Homo sapiens: one gene and its partners. The protein of the gene in region 3 purifies or fractionates together with the protein of the main gene of each other region. This does not show direct contact. Each region holds a gene or a part of one and is shown on either strand. Other genes may lie near its edges.

Region 1 (3,603 bases), on a different chromosome or scaffold from region 3:
GTGGGCACTGTGACCCCGGCACTTAGTGAGGAAGGGGTGGGCACTGTGACCCCGGCACTTAGTGAGGAAGGGGGGTGGGCGCTGTGACCCCGGCACTTAGGAAGGGGTGGGCGCTGTGACCCTGGCTCTTAGTGAGCAAGGGGTGGGCGCTGTGACCCCAGCACTTAGGAAGGGGTGGGCACTGTGACCCCGGCACTTAGTGACAATGTTGGAGCCTCACCTCCCAGATCCATAAAGCAGGGATCATGAAAACCAACCGAAGGCAGCAGGGCCTACGGGGCACTCAGGTAAGGGAGGCGTCCACCTGGGCAGGGAGACATCCCTCGCACTGGCTGTCCCCACACCGCCCCATCCCCAGCACGCTCTGGTCTGTGACGTCCACCTGATGTGGCACCCGTCAGCAGGTGCTGGACACAGTGGCTCTCCCTTGTCTCCCCAGATGTCAAGAATATGAACACGTGGCTGCTGTTCCTCCCCCTGTTCCCGGTGCAGGTGCAGACCCTGATAGTCGTGATCATCGGGATGCTCGTGCTCCTGCTGGACTTTCTTGGCTTGGTGCACCTGGGCCAGCTGCTCATCTTCCACATCTACCTGAGTATGTCCCCCACCCTAAGCCCCCGATCCCCCCAAGGCTGGGTGGTCAGAGCTGCTCATCTTACACCTCTACTTGAGTATGTCCCTAACCCTGAGCCCCCCACGCCTGGGGCCAGAGTCTTTGTCCCCCGTGTGCGCATGTGTTCAGGGTCAGCCTCTCCCAGAAGTGAGATCATGGACAAAAAGGGCAAATCACAGGAAGAAATTAAATCCATGAGGACCCAGCAGGCCCAGCAAGAAGCTGAACTCACGCCGAGACCTGCAGGAGTGGTGCCAGGTGCTTGAAGTAACAAGTTTAAAATGTTCAGAGACAATGGAATGGAATCTATTAGGCAAGAACAGGACATTATGAAATAAGGACAGGTGGACTTCCAAAAACACAAGTAGAAATTCTAACAATGAAATATATTACAGGCAGGTCACCCACTAACCAAACAACTGAAGCGAGAGCTGGTGGTCTTGCTTGGTCTCACAGTGGGCACAGCGGTAGGCGGTCAGTCATGTTGCTGAACGACGGAGGGTAAACTCCCCAGCCCCAAGGAAACCTGTGTTGGAAGTAACAACAACCTCCCTGCTCCTGGCACCAGCCGTTTTGGTCATGGTGGGCCAGCTGCAAAGCGTCTTCCATTCTCTGGGCAGTGGTGGCCCCGAGGCTGTGGCCTCTCAGGGGGTTTCTGTGGACACGGGCAGCAGAGTGTGTCCAGGCCAGCCCCCAAGAATGCCCTGCTCCTGACAGCTTGGCCAACCCCTGGTCAGGGCAGAGGGAGTTGGGTGGGTCAGGCTCTGGGCTCACCTCCATCTCCAGAGCATCCCCTGCCTGCAGTTGTGGCAAGAACGCCCAGCTCAGAATGAACACACCCCACCAAGAGCCTCCTTGTTCATAACCACAGGTTACCCTACAAACCACTGTCCCCACACAACCCTGGGGATGTTTTAAAACACACACCTCTAACGCATATCTTACAGTCACTGTTGTCTTGCCTGAGGGTTGAATTTTTTTTAATGAAAGTGCAATGAAAATCACTGGATTAAATCCTACGGACACAGAGCTGAATGTGCTGTTTTCAGAGTTTTAATTTTGGATGTCAAGGCCAGTGCCTGTATAGAATAGGTGCTTAGGATATGTTTACTGAATGGAATGGAACTAAAGCCTCAGGTGTAACTTCATGGAGACACGCGTCTGCCTTGTAGAATGTTACAGGCTGCCTGTTCCTGAAGCTGAAACCCTTAAGAGTGAGAAGTCATTTGGGCCTCCTTCAAAACTCTCCACCCTTCTTAGAATCAGGAATATTTTTAAAAGTACTTTCTAGAATTATCTAGCAATCTCTCTTATATTTAAATATTTTTGGGTTTACCACCTATGAAGGCTTTTCTGGAGTTTCACTCCACCCAGAATTCATCATCTCTCCTTATCAGGAAATCTCTCACCCTCAGATGCTTAGAGTCAGGGTGAGTCCCCCCACAACAGGAGAATCGGCCGAGGTTGGGCCGAGGCCACATGGTCTCATCCACATGTGCCGCAGATTAAGGGATGCTCAAACTGCCCAGTAATACAAAGTCTGCACTTGTCATTTTTTTCCAACTTTGTGTACAAAATGTTTCCCTGGGTTAAAATAGTCAATGCCCACTGTGTGCTGAGCACGTGGGGTGCTGCAGGCCCTTGTGCTGCAGAGAAGCTGGCCCTTGCCTCAGGCGGCAGAGCAGGGAAGTGCAGTGGGCCTGAAGCCATGCGGGGCTGGGAGGGATGACCTGGTCTGTCCTCTGAGCCAGGCACTGCACTTGGAATGGGCTTCTTGAACGCAAAGCCCAGACCAAGTGTGGCAGAAACATGAAAGGACAGGCAGTCGGCTGCTGTGGGCGGGAGGCAGGACGCCCAGGCCTGTCCCCACCCCCGTGACCCAGAGCCTCCCTGGGCAGTGACTCCAGGATGTCCAGGAGCTTCTTCTCTACCTCACAGGACTGGAGAGGCTGTGGTGAGACGCATCCTGTGAAGGCTGGGCTGGCCACAGGCAGCTCCCCAGGGCGCCCACCGCCATCTGCTCCTCACTGCAAATAGGCCTCTGTGGGCGGCCGCCCCAGTCTCCAGAAATAGTCACAAGACATCGGCTCTCACGGTGTTGGTGTTTAGGGAAAGAAGCATGGAGAGTTTGGCCCCTCCATGGAAGCTCGTGGCTGAAATAGGTGCAGAGCCCATTTTATTAACGTTTGTTAAGACGGCTCTTTTAGATAAACGGGTGTATCAGGTTTTGCTTTGCTTCCCTGGGCTGCTTTGCTGCCTGCAGGACAGGCCAGGTGGGTAGGGCTCTGGCCAGCCTGCTGAGCTGTCCTGTGGGCACTGTGCAGGGCTGCAGGGATGGTGACCTGTCTCAGCCCCATCAGAGGCTGTGCTGAGTGGCACTCACAGCACTCGTGTTCACCTCCTGGGCCTGGGGCTCTCAGCACGCTCAGGAGTGTGTGGTCCCAGGACCCGCTAGCCAGCACCTCGGGGTGGCCGCCCCACTGCGTGGTCCTCCGACTGTGGGGTCTCTGTGCATCCCCCAAGGTGCGCCCCACCCAGTGTCCAGATGTGGGGAACCCCACAGGCCATCTGGACCCTCAGACAGAGCGGCCCCTCCTGAGCTGGTCTCTTACCCCTGCCAGCGATCCCAGGGGATCTGGAGCAACCTCTCAAGCTGCATGGTATAGGGGACCCAGGTCTGTGAGAGACAGCTCATCTCTGACACCACTAACAATGCAGCTCAATGAGGCCGTGGCAGGCGGCAGGGGCGTGGGTCAGCACTGTTCCCCAGGTCGCAGCTGCAGACCCCTCCTGCTGACCATCAGCTAGCTGCAGAACTGGGCCCACAAGGCACCTGCACTCATCCTGACCTCACAGGGCCTGCATGGTGGGCGGAGCAGTTCTCCCTGTGCAGGGGCCGGATCAGTGGCACTGGCCACTCTGCTGAGCTGTCCTGTGGGCGCCGTGCAAAGCCGCAGGGCTGGTATCTTGTCCTGTTCCTCCTTTTCCCT
Region 2 (3,603 bases), on a different chromosome or scaffold from region 3:
AATCCACACCTCCAGATATCAGGTATCTTTGATCATACCGAGCTGAGACCTGATGAGGATATAGCAAACATGTGACTTTGTTCCGATGACCACGGAGTGTTCTGTGAGGTGGCCAACCTGTGAATGAGGGTTTGGATTTAAAATGGGAAAATTAAAGGTTTACCAAGTTTCAGTAAGTAAAAGTAAACATGAATGTTTAGAATAGCTACAAATTATATCACAGCAAAGGCTTCCAATTTTATCTTCTAACACAACTCTGCCTAATTCAGTATCTACTAGCCACATGAGACTACTGAGCACTTGAAATGGGGGTAATCCAGATTCCTATGTGCTGTGAATTTAAACTAGTCATGAGATTTTGAAGAGTTGATACAAAAAACCTAAAATATTTCATCAACAATCTTCATATTGATTAGAAGTTGAAATGAAAATAGTTTTTGCTATATTGGGTTATATAAAATATAGTCAATTTCAACTGTTTCATTTTATTTTTTAACACAGCTATTAGGAAATTACAGGTATGGTTATATATATATGGTTGACATTCGATTTCCACTGGCTGTTGAGAGGCCGAGGCAGGCAGATCACTTGAGGTCAGGAGTTCGAGACCAGCCTGGCCAACATGGTGAAACTGTCCCTACAAAAAATACAAAAATTAGCTGGGTGTGGTGGCACATGCCTATAATCCCAGCTACTTGGGGGGCTGTGCAGGAGAACTGCTTGAACTCAGGAGGCAGAGATTGTAGTGAGCCGAGATCATGCCACTGCACTCTAGTCTGAGCAACACAGTGAGACTCTTTCTCGGAAAAAAAAAAAAAAAAGATTTCTATTGGATGGTACTGTTCTGGAGGATTTTCAGAATTACTGGTAATACAGTAATTATTTAGTAATCCATAGAGATAACTAAGAGATGAAACTATTAACATATCTCAAAGAGATAAAATTGGATACTTCTTTATTTACAGTCATTACATTGTATTAATTCTAATAACAGGCACTGAATATTTTATCTGTGCATTAAACTCTACCAACTACATAGCACCCCAACAACTAACTACACTGATTCACTGTATTTATTTAAAAACAAAAAACAGAGACATTTTCACTCTCTGGGTAAGAGTTGTCAAAACACTTTAGACATACGGAGCTCTTCAGTATACCTCTTCTGAGCATGTGTTCCCCTTGCAACAGCTGTACTATGGCCGTCTGTGTGGCAGGTACAATAACTATGCTTCCATCTTCACGACCACAAACAAGTCGTCCATGTGCTGGTATGTACACACTTGCAGTTACTTTAAGAGGTTCATTACTATTGGGAATCACACTCAGCTGATCTATAATTCCAGCAGGACAAGGATTCAGTTTATCAAATGCCTCTTGCAAACTAATAGAAGTTGTCATTGCCAGCCCTGTAGAGGTTTGGTTTTGTATAAAAGAAAAACATTTGTGCATGTTAAAAAAAATTTAAAACATTAAAATAATGTTGATTGATCCAGTAATCAAAGAAAATGATATATGTACATTATGAATGTTATTCAGTAGTTGGTATTTAAGATATTAAATTAATTAAGAAATTGTTACACATGATTTACTATTACCTTCTTCACTTCCCTGTTTATCAGCTGTGTCTGATATGTTCCAAATATTCAACCTTCCAGAAGAATCACCCTGAATTAACAGTTTATGGAAATATTCTCTGCATCCATAGAAGAACCGAGTAACAGGAGGACAAATTAGCAACTGCCAAAAAAAGTATTTGAATATCTTTAGCTGTATTTTTAATCAAAATATTTCACACATTAATGCTTTTCAAACAAAGATATTAGGTAATTTGTCCCAGTAGCCAAGTTGAAAAAGTGTTTATAGCATGATTATTCAACAATATTTTAATGTAATTCTATAGCACTAACATACATGTCAACTAATATTCTAATCTAGTATAACACACACATTGAATGAAACAAAAACTGTATTTACAGCCTTTCTCTAAAGTTAGCATTTATGCTACTTTTCACCACTTTATAATAACTCATGTGTAGCCACAATAATGCAATTTAACTGCCTATTATTAAATAATTAACACATAGCTAAGCTTTATCAAAAAGAAAAGTCTTCACTTAAAAGGTCAAGATGAGAGAACTCACTATTCCTGCTTTTTTTGCCCACTCCTGATTAATCATTAAGAATAGCAACAAAATTAGGGAACAGTGGCTCATGCTTGTAATCCCAACAATGACACGGAAGATCGCTTGAGGCCAGGAGTCAGAGACCGGCCCTGGACAACTAAGCGAAATCCTGTCTCTACAGGAAAAAAAAAAAAACTTAGCCCAGCATGGTGGCACAGGCTCATAGCTCCAGGTATTCAGGAGGCTGTGGTGGGAGCATCACTTGAGTCCAGGAGTTTGAAGCTACAGTGAACTATCATTTCGCTACTGCACTCCAGCCTGGATGACACAGCAAGACCTTGCCTCAAAAAAACAAAAAGTAGGCTGGCCACAGTGGCTCATGCCTGTAATGCCAGCACTTTGGGAGGCTGCAGCGGGCAGATCACTTGAGGCCAAAAGTTCAAGACCAGCCTGGCCAACATGGTGAAACCCTGTCTCTAATAAAAATACAAAAATTAGCCAGGTGTGGTGGTGCGTGCCTGTAATCCCAGCTACTCGGGAGGCTGAGGCAGGAGAATCGCTTGAACCCAGGAAGCAAAGGTTGCAGTGAGCCGAGATCACACCACTGCACTCCAGCCTGGGAGTCAAAGGGCGACTCCATCTCAAAAAAAAAAAAAAAACAAAAAAAAAAACCAACAAAATTGAACTATCAAGCTTGTGCAACTAGAGGACCCCATTGTTAAAATTAGTATATTTTTCAACTAATAGCATATCATGTTTTACTTGCTCATATTTTCATAATCAATTTGAACCTAGCCTCTGTTAGCTACCAGCTACCAGGAACAAAAACCATTCATTAGGATCTTATGTGTACTTTCATTTTCAGCTCAAGATTTTGTGCCTTCAATGAAGTACTATCTGAAAATACTAAATAGTGTGGTGGACTTCTACTAAAATTCGGAGGATTACTTCACAAATACTGGAATATTAAAGAACAGAATCTTAGCCTGAAAAGCAATATTAAATTTGACTTCAGTTTTGACAATTATAGTTAATAGTCTAATTACTGTATTCAAATACTGGTTAATCAAATACAGTAATTAACAGCTAAAAGCATTAGCCAATGGAAACTACACATATTAAGCATAACCAATCGTTTGACTTTACTTACTGAATTTTTTTTGCTTTTGAGACAGGGTCTCGCCATGTTGCCCAGGCTGGAGTGCAGTGGCACGATCACAGCTCACTGCAGCCTCCACCTCCCAGCTCAAAGGATCTTCCCACTTCAGCCTCCCAAGTAGCTGGGACTACAGGCGTGTACCACCACACCATGCTAATTTTTTTTTTTGTAGAGATGGGGTCTCACTATGTCGCCCAGACTAAAATTTTTAATTGATAAACTATATATTTAACAAGGAAAAATTGCTACAGCAGCTGTAATAACCAATATTCTACATTTCAACACACCACAAAATACACATTTTTAATTTAAAACGTA
Region 3 (5,009 bases):
AGTAAGCAAAGCATGCCATTTAAAAGGTTCAAAAACTGACAAAGCTAACCTATGGTGACAAAAGTTAAGAGAAAGAGTTGCTGGAGGGGAATCCTGGGCTTCACTATCCAATACATCTGGCTATTTAATTTAAATAAATTAAAATTAAAAATTTAATTCCTTAGAAACATTAGCCACATTTCAAGCACTCAGTAGTTACATTTGGATAATGGCTATTGTATTGAATGGGAAAGACAGAGAATGTAGAGAATTTCCATCTTCACAGAAAGTTTTATTTATCAGCACTGTTCTAGGATGATGGGAATTTTCTGTATCTTGATCTGGGAAGTAGTTATATGCATGTATCAATATGAAAAAATTCACCAAGCAGTATACTAAAGATTTGTGCACTTTTTATTTTTTTTTTTTTTAATTTTTGAGACAGGGTCTTGCTCTGTTGCCCAGGCTGGAGTGCAATGGTGCAATCATAGTTCACTGCAACCTCTGCCTCCCGGACCCAAGCCATCCTCCCACCTGAGCCTCCCAAGTAGCTGGGTCTACAGCCATACACCACCACGCTCGGCTAATTTCTGTATTTTTTGTAGAGACGGGGTTTTGTCATGTTCCTCAGGCTGGTCTTGAACTTTTGAGCTTAAGCAATCTGCCCACCTTGGCCTCCCAAAGTGCTGGGATTACAGGCATGAGCTACCATGCCCAGCCAAGATCTGTACACTTTATTGTATTAAGTTATAACTCAATAATTAAGTAAATACATGAACATATGTTTTTAAAATGACTAGCAGAAAACATATACAATATATATAACTGTAGATTCACATCTAAAATATGAAGAATTCATATGAATCAATAAGAACAGGGGAGCAACCTAAAAGAAAAATCATAGGCGATTCACAGGAAAGGACGGCTAACGAACATATTAAAAGATGCTCAGGTTCATGAAAATTCAGAAAAATACAATCTAAAACACTGAGATACTACTTTTGACCATCATGTTAACAAAAATTTATATGGTTGGTAATACCAATTGTTTATAAGAAATTGAGGCTGGGCACAGTGGCTCATGCCTATAATCCCAGCACTTTGGGAGGCCGAAACAGAGGATTGCTTGAGGTCAGGAGTTTAGGACCAGCTTGGGCAACATAGCAAGACTCCATCTTTACAAAAATTTTAAAAGTGAAAAAATCAGCCTGGCATGGTGGTGAGCACTTGTAGTCCCAGCTACCTAGGAGGCTAAGGTCAGAGGATCACTTGAGCCCAGCAAGTCAAGGCTGCAGTGAGCCATGATCATGCCACTGCATTCCAGCCTATGCAACAGAATGAGATCCTGTCTCCAAAAAAAAAAAAAAATCCATAAAACCATGTATTAATATGTACACACATATATGTATTATACATCAATGCAGAGAAACAGTTATAAGAAATATAACCCAAACCAATAATACTTGTTAGTTACTTCAAGGAATGCAAGTCAAAATTAGTGGATGGTGGCTTTCACTTTTTATTTTTTTGAGACAGGGTCTTGCTCTGTTGCCCAGGCTGGAGAACAGTGACACAATCATAGCTCACTGCAGCCTTAACCTCCCGGGCTCAATTGATTCTTCTACCTCAGCCTCCCGAGTAGCTGGGACTACAGGTGTACGCTACCCCAGTCGGCTAATTTTTTTTTTTTTTTTTTTGGTAGAAATAGGGTTTACCATGTTGCCCAGGCTGGTCTTGAATTCCTGGGCTCAAGCAATCCAACCCCACCTCGGCCTCCCAAAGTGTTGGGATTACAGGCGTTGAGCCTCTTTCATTTTTACTAGATTACAATTTTCACAATAGAATGTTTTCAGGCCGGGTGCAGTGGATCATGTCTGTAATCCTAGCACTTTGGGAGGCTGAGGCAGGCAGATGGCTTGAGTTCAGGAATTTAAGACAAGCCTGGACAACAGGGCAAAACCCCACCTCTATAAAAACCACGAAAAATTAGCCAGGCATGGTGGCATGCACCTGTAGTTCCAGCTACTTGAGAAGCTGCGGTGGGAGGATCACTTGATCCCAGGAGGTCAAGGCTGCAGTAAGCTACAGTCATGCCACTGCACTCCCACCTGGGTGACAAAGAGAGACTCTGTGTCAAAAAAAAAACAACAAAAAAAAAACAAAACAAAACCCTTAAAAACAACTATTGCTGCTGTTGTTGTTGAGTTATTGCTGTTCTACATCCTAATGGTGTATATGACTTCAAACTATTTTTGAACAGATAAAAGCTAATCATATAATTGAAGGATATTTACTTTTGTTCTCTCTATATATTTTTGGATTTTTTCTTTTTCTTTAAGTCAATAAATTTTTGTTCAAGTAATTCCATGTTGTGATTTCTTCCACTGTCCATCAAGGTCACTTCAGATCCTCTAAAGAGCTGGAGTCAAAAGATTTATCTTCAAGTTAGCCCTTTTTAATGAAACTGATGCTTATTTTAATCCAGCTGTCCTGTTAGCCCATAATTCTTTTATTTTGGCTTCTGTCATCTCCTTTTAATATGGATATACTGATGAAGACTTCAAAATTCACCAAGAATCTTTGGGATCTAACTTCTTCAACCAATTTACTTTAGGGTCCTTTTTACTGTAGGTGGTGGATCTGCCTGGTTCTCAATTTGACACCCTAAGCGATCATACTCAAGAATAGTACAGATGTGTGGAATACGCCAATACCTTTAACTACAGACATCATGTTCTCAAGATAAAAGCCTTTAAAACAAAAAGCCATCGTAGGTATCAAGTCAACATGAAATTGGAATGCAAAATTAATACTGCTGAGGATTTCCTTCATATCCCATGCTGTTTAACTATCTCTTCCACAGTCCTAGAATCAATCTTTTTTAATTAAGAGACAGGGTCTGTCTTTGTTACCCAGGCTGGAGTACAGTGGTGTCATCAAAGCTCAGTGCAGCCTCCAACTCCTGGGCTCAATACTCTTGCCTCAGCCTCCTCTTCCTGAGTAGCTGCAACTACAGACACATGCCCCAATACTCAGCTAATTTTTAAATTTTTGTGGAGATGAGGTGTTTGTTACTTTCTTATACAGGCTGGTCTTGAACTCCTGGCTTCAAGCAATACTCCCACCTTGGTGTGGGGCTTGCAGGCTTGAGCCATTGTGCCTGGTCTGGGACCAACCTTTATGGCTATCAATATTCCCATCAGTTAACTGTCTCAGGTATCATAATATCCCTTCTTATATGTATCAAAACTCATACTGAACAATGAGTTCTGGGTTGCAAAAGAGGATTTATTTTTTGCACCTATCCATAAGTCTTTGTCCACAAGTTAAACAAAAACATACATAAGTGCAGTTGGATTTTCTTTTTTAAACATCTGAGCATTCACTGCTCAGTTTATAAATCACCTTATATATGATGACGTGATCTACTTAAACTTCAAAACATTTCTCAATTACAGAAATGGCAAACCTAAAAGCCCCAAAAGTTTATTTAGATTTCTTTAATCTTTAAACATAGACTTTGTCCAATCTTTTAAAGGTCCTTGATTAAATCAAGACCACATTTATCTATGTCATTGGGAAATCCTTACCTTTAGTTTCTTTAAACAGTCTATATCTTTATCTTTAAACATAAACACTTTTTTTTTCTTTTGAGACAAGAGTCTTGCTCTGTTGCCCAGGCTGGAGTGCAGTGGTGCAATCTCGGCTCACTGCAACCTCCCACTGCTGGGTTCAAATGATTCTCCTGCCTCAGCCTCCCCAGTAGCTGGAACTACAGGTGTGCGCCACTGTGCCCAGCTAATTTTTGTACTTTTAGTAGAGACAGGGTTTCACCATGTTGGCCAGACTTATCTTGAACTCCTGACCTCAGGTGATCTGCCCACCTCAGCCTCCCAAAGTGCTGGGATTACAGGCGTAAGCCACCGCATCTGGCCTAAACATAGACTTTTTGGATAATTTTCCTTACTCAAAGCACTATCTTCTACTAGGATGAAGTTATATAAACCACAAAATAAATTAAAATGGAAAGAACTAGTGCATCCTACCTGGGTTACTGGAATGTAGAGAGGTTCTCCATTATGCAGCAGTGTAAGTTTCCCATGCTGATAGAGCCGTCCTTCCGGCCTTAAATTTGCCATCTCCTTAGGTCCTCCTTTCTTGCCACTCTCTTGTCCATTTCCTTTAAGTTCTTCAGTATCACTTAGGCATTCAAAAAATTCTTCTTCGCTGTCACTCCAGGAATCCCAAGATTTTCCTACCTCTCCCTTTTCCTTATCTGTTTCTTTTAGATTATCTGGCACCAACTGGTCTCCTGCTTTTCCAGCATCCCCTGGATATATATTAGTGACATCTGAAGCACTTGTCTTTTTCCCCTCATCACGTGCCTTCTTTCTTTCAATACAACAATTTAACATCTTAAGAAAAGAGAAATAACATTTATAGTTGAATTAGTTACAGAAAAATAAAAATCTACCTACTGCTTGAATATTTAATTTTCACTCTCCACTTCTCAGGACCTTGTGAATTGCAGTGACTACTGACTATAGGCAACCTACAGCAGCACCATGAGAACAGCATGTAACCCATTATTACATTTAGTATTAGAATAATCTGATTAAATCAAGACCACATTTATCCATGTCATTGAGAAATCTTTACCTGTAGTTTCTGATGCAGTAAACAACACCTCAGATCTGGGGGTCCACTTGCTAATCTATCAAATAAAGTAAGGAGAAAAGAAAGCTTAGTTTTAGTAAAATTGCTTCAGATATGATTATTTTCTATACTACCATAATTTTTAGCTATATTGATAAGAAATCAAAACTAGATTTCCACAGGTAAGGTAAGTGAATTCCAGAGGGGGAGCACATAGAATTAAAAGATGAAAATTTATTTTATACTCCTTGTCCACAAATCACCAATAGCAAATATAATAGATATTTCAAAACATAACAGCAAATTAGTGATAGTTTTCAGGCTAACAAAAACTCAAAATGAGAAAAAGCCCCTGAACCCACTCCAGGAAGTAC
Region 4 (3,603 bases), on a different chromosome or scaffold from region 3:
AAGACTCTGTCTCAAAAAATAAACTAAAAACAAAAGAGAACTGAAGAAGACATTTCAAGGAAGCATAATTTGTGGAATTTGTTTAGGTCCTATTAAAAAAAAGACATTAGGCTGGGCACGGTGGCTCATGCCTGTAATCCCAGCACTTTGGGAGGCTGAGGCGGGAGGATCACCTGAGGTCAGGAGTTCGAGACCAGCCTGGCCAACATGGTGAAACCCTGTCTCTACTAAAAATACAAAAATTAGCCGGGCATGGTGGCTTGAGGCTGTAGTCTCAGCTATTCGGGAGGCTGAGGCAGGAGAATCACTTGAACCCGGGAGGTGGAGGTTGTGGTGAGCTGAGATCATGCCACTGCACTCCAGCCTAGATGACAGAGCGAGACTCCATCGCAAAAAATAAATAATTAATTAATTTTAAAAAGACATTAATGAAGCAATTGGGAACATATGAACACTGAATAGACAGGACGTTAAGGAATTATTGTTAGTTTTTTTTGGTGTGAAAATGCTACTAGGGTAATATTAATAGAGTATTTATCTCATATACTGAAGTATTTAAGGAAGAAATTATGTGCAGGGTTTGTTTGAAAATAATCTAGTAGGGGTAGGGATGAAGTAGAATAGAAAGAAGGTTGGCTATGAACTGCTGGGTGATGGGTACAGTACATGGAGTTCATCATACTATTCGATTTTTTTTTTTTTTTTGAGACAGAGTCTCGCTCTGTTGCCCGTGCTGGAGTGCAGTGACGCGATCTCGGCTCACTGCAAGCTCCGCCTCCCAGGTTCACGCCATTTTCCTGCCTCAGCCTCCCGAGTAGCTGGGACTACAGGCGCCCGCCACCACGCCTGGCTAATTTTTTGTATTTTTAGTAGAGATGGGGTTTCACCATGTTAGCCAGGATGGTCTTGATCTCCTGACCTCGTGATCCACCCGTCTTGGCCTCCCAAAGTGCTGGGATTACAGGCGTGAGCCACCGCGCCCGGCCAGTTTTTTTTTTGAGACTGAGTCTCGCTCTGTTGCCCAGGCTAGAATACAATGGCGTGATCTCGGCTCACCTCAACCTCCACCTCCCAGGTTCAAGTGATTCTTCTGCCTCAGCCTCCCGAGTAGCTGAGATTACAGGTGTGCGCCACCACATCCAGCCGATTTTTTGTATTTTTAGTAGAGACGGGGTTTCACCATGTTGGCCAGGCTGGTCTAGAACTCCTAGGCTCTAGCAATCCACCCACCTCAGCCTCCCAAAGTGCTAGGATTACAGGTGTGAGCCACTGCACCTGGCCCATCATACTATTCTCTATTCTACTTTTGTGTATGTTTACAATTTCTATAGTAAGTTAATAAAAGCCCAGCCAAGACTGAAATAAAAGTTGGTCAGGCGTGGTGGCTCACGCCTGTAATCCCAGCACTTTGGGAGGCTGAGGCAGGTGGATCACGAGGTCAGGAGATCAAGACCATCCTGGCTAACACGGTGAAACCCTGTCTCTACTAAAAATACAAAAAAATAAGTCAGGCGTGGTGGTGGGCGCCTGTAGTCCCAGCTACTTGGGAGGCTGAAGCAGAAGAATGGCGTGAACCCAGGAGGCGGAGCTTGCAGTGAGCCGAGATTGTGCCACTGCACTCCAGCCTGGGCAACATAGTCAGACTCTGTCTCAAAAAAAAAAAAAAAAAAAAGTTGCAGATGATTAAAGTTCCCCTTTAAAAATTCTATAATAACAGTGCCCTTTACACTTTCTTTACACTTGCAGGAAAAGGGAAAAAAACCCTCATAAACAAGTTTAATGACAAGCAGCACCTTGTTTCTTATTCGATCTCTCTTGACCACTTCTTCTTTCTTTTCAGTTTTTTCTGAGCTGCCTATTGATTCTGTACTTTCAGCCTTCTTTCCTTTATCCCGAAGTGTGTCTTTCTCTTTTTTCATTTCTTCTTCTTTTCTCTTAAAAGTCTTCTCTTTCTCATAGCGCTCCTTCTGCCTACGGCGCTCTTCTTCTTGCCGCTTCAGCCTCTCTCTTTCTCGAAGTATGCGCTCCTGATCTCGTTCATATTCCCGTTCCCTCTCCCTATAGTCTCTGCCGCTCTCATCTTCAGGTCTGCATGAAAAACAAATCTGAGACAGAACCCTGAAAGATCTTGTAATCACAAATGCAGGAACACTGTGATTCTGATTTGGCCCCTGCAATGAGGTTGCACTTTTAGAGCAGAGTGAAAAATACTAGTGTTTTAAGAAGGAACAAAACCCCAAAACCATTCACCCAGATTAAGATACAAGAATATTCTGAAACTGTTCCTCCTCATCCCCCTGCCCTGCATAAAACAGCTTATCTTAATTCAGGTACATGTCCAGGACATAGCAGCAAAACTAGCATGTATAAATCAAACATAACAAAGAGTCCTTGACTACTGACCTCTTTGGTTTTTCATCTTTAAGTTCGCTATCAGAACGCTTGGGCAATGTACAACTTTGCCCACTGGCTCTTTCATCACTGAGATTCTCTTTGTCCAATTTCTTGGCTTTTTCTCTTTTGTCCAATTCTTTTTCATCTCCTTTTTCTGGCTTCTTGAGCAGCTTTAAAGATAAAATGTTTATTTTTATTTTGAAGGCTGGGACACTATCTTCTATTAAAAACCCAGTATACCAAATATTTAAAATTTAGACTAGACAAAGCCCCCTATCTCTGCAGGTACACTTAATCTTTCAGGTGAACAACTAGTGCATAAGAGTAGTAATTTACTAAAAGGATGCTATTAATGTTAAAGTGTTATCCACTTGAACGAAGTGGTTTAATCACTTTGTGGCAATAGGATCAAGACTCCTTTGGCTTTTATTCTGAGGCAGGGTCTCACTACTCTGTTGCCCATGCTGGAGTGCAGTGGCATGAACATGGCTCACCGCAACCTTGACCTCCTGGGCTTAAGTGGTCCTCCTGCCTCAGCCTCTTGAGTAGCTAGGACAACAGATGCACACCACCACATATGGCTAATTTTTTAATTTTTTTGTAGAGACAAGGTCTCATCATGTCACCCAGGCTGTTCTCAAACTTCTGGGCTCACACCATCCTTCTGCCTCGGCCTCCCACAGTGCTGAGATTACAGGTGTGAGCCACTGTGCCCGGCTTCCTTTGGCTTTAAATGGGTCAACCTTTAAGTGAACCAATGCATACTTCAAAGTATGCTTCTGTAGCAAACCAGCATGTTGATATAACTTAATGGGAAACAGCCCACAAATTTTAAGTGATAGGCAGATCGTTTCTGTTGGGACTGTTTTTATGTAGTACTTGGAATGACAAATACCTTGGTCACCAAAGGAGAGATCCATTGCAGGAATAATTTTGCCTTGAGCCTGAGAATAACATACTTATGATGGTACAATTATCTTGCCATTAGAGATTAATAACAAGAATTATTTGGCATTTGATTTAAAAATCTAAAGGCCTTATACAACCAAATAGTGAAGTTCCATCTCTACTGAGTAGGAACTCTGTATTTAATGCCATATTTACGCATGTTCAAAAATGCCATTGTTTTTTACATTGCTGCTATGAATCTCTCGAGAATACCTCCAAGTGTCGGATAATCAGAGAGATTCTTAGGCAAAATAGAAGAAT

What was found.
Region 1: the proteins of RAB3GAP1 (region 3) and ZDHHC11 purify together in Homo sapiens (co-immunoprecipitation; one large-scale study listed by IntAct). This does not show direct contact.
Region 2: the proteins of RAB3GAP1 (region 3) and WDR7 purify together in Homo sapiens (affinity purification with western blotting, with the first as the bait; one study listed by BioGRID). This does not show direct contact.
Region 4: the proteins of RAB3GAP1 (region 3) and UPF3B fractionate together in Homo sapiens (co-fractionation; one large-scale study listed by BioGRID). This does not show direct contact.

The regions. Positions count from the first base shown.
Region 1 is NC_000005.10:837,487-841,089, reverse strand, and holds part of ZDHHC11 (palmitoyltransferase ZDHHC11), read left to right. Parts: exon of another isoform or gene 1-245; coding exon of another isoform or gene 246-287; intron 288-439; coding exon 440-595; coding exon of another isoform or gene 596-671; exon of another isoform or gene 672-742; coding exon of another isoform or gene 743-871; exon of another isoform or gene 872-1,008; coding exon of another isoform or gene 1,009-1,118; exon of another isoform or gene 1,119-1,648; intron 1,649-2,551; coding exon of another isoform or gene 2,552-2,585; exon of another isoform or gene 2,586-3,603. UniProt on the Homo sapiens protein: Endoplasmic reticulum-localized palmitoyltransferase that could catalyze the addition of palmitate onto various protein substrates and be involved in a variety of cellular processes.
Region 2 is NC_000018.10:56,692,756-56,696,358, reverse strand, and holds part of WDR7 (WD repeat-containing protein 7), read right to left. Parts: intron 1,741-3,603; coding exon 1,599-1,740; intron 1,410-1,598; coding exon 1,161-1,409; intron 118-1,160; coding exon 1-117.
Region 3 is NC_000002.12:135,134,949-135,139,957, reverse strand, and holds part of RAB3GAP1 (rab3 GTPase-activating protein catalytic subunit), read right to left. Parts: intron 4,694-5,009; coding exon 4,639-4,693; intron 4,395-4,638; coding exon 4,026-4,394; intron 3,331-4,025; exon of another isoform or gene 3,203-3,330; intron 1-3,202. UniProt on the Homo sapiens protein: Catalytic subunit of the Rab3 GTPase-activating (Rab3GAP) complex composed of RAB3GAP1 and RAB3GAP2, which has GTPase-activating protein (GAP) activity towards various Rab3 subfamily members (RAB3A, RAB3B, RAB3C and RAB3D), RAB5A and RAB43, and guanine nucleotide exchange factor (GEF) activity towards RAB18.
Region 4 is NC_000023.11:119,835,964-119,839,566, forward strand, and holds part of UPF3B (regulator of nonsense transcripts 3B), read right to left. Parts: intron 2,565-3,603; coding exon 2,404-2,564; intron 2,089-2,403; coding exon 1,794-2,088; intron 1-1,793. UniProt on the Homo sapiens protein: Involved in nonsense-mediated decay (NMD) of mRNAs containing premature stop codons by associating with the nuclear exon junction complex (EJC) and serving as link between the EJC core and NMD machinery.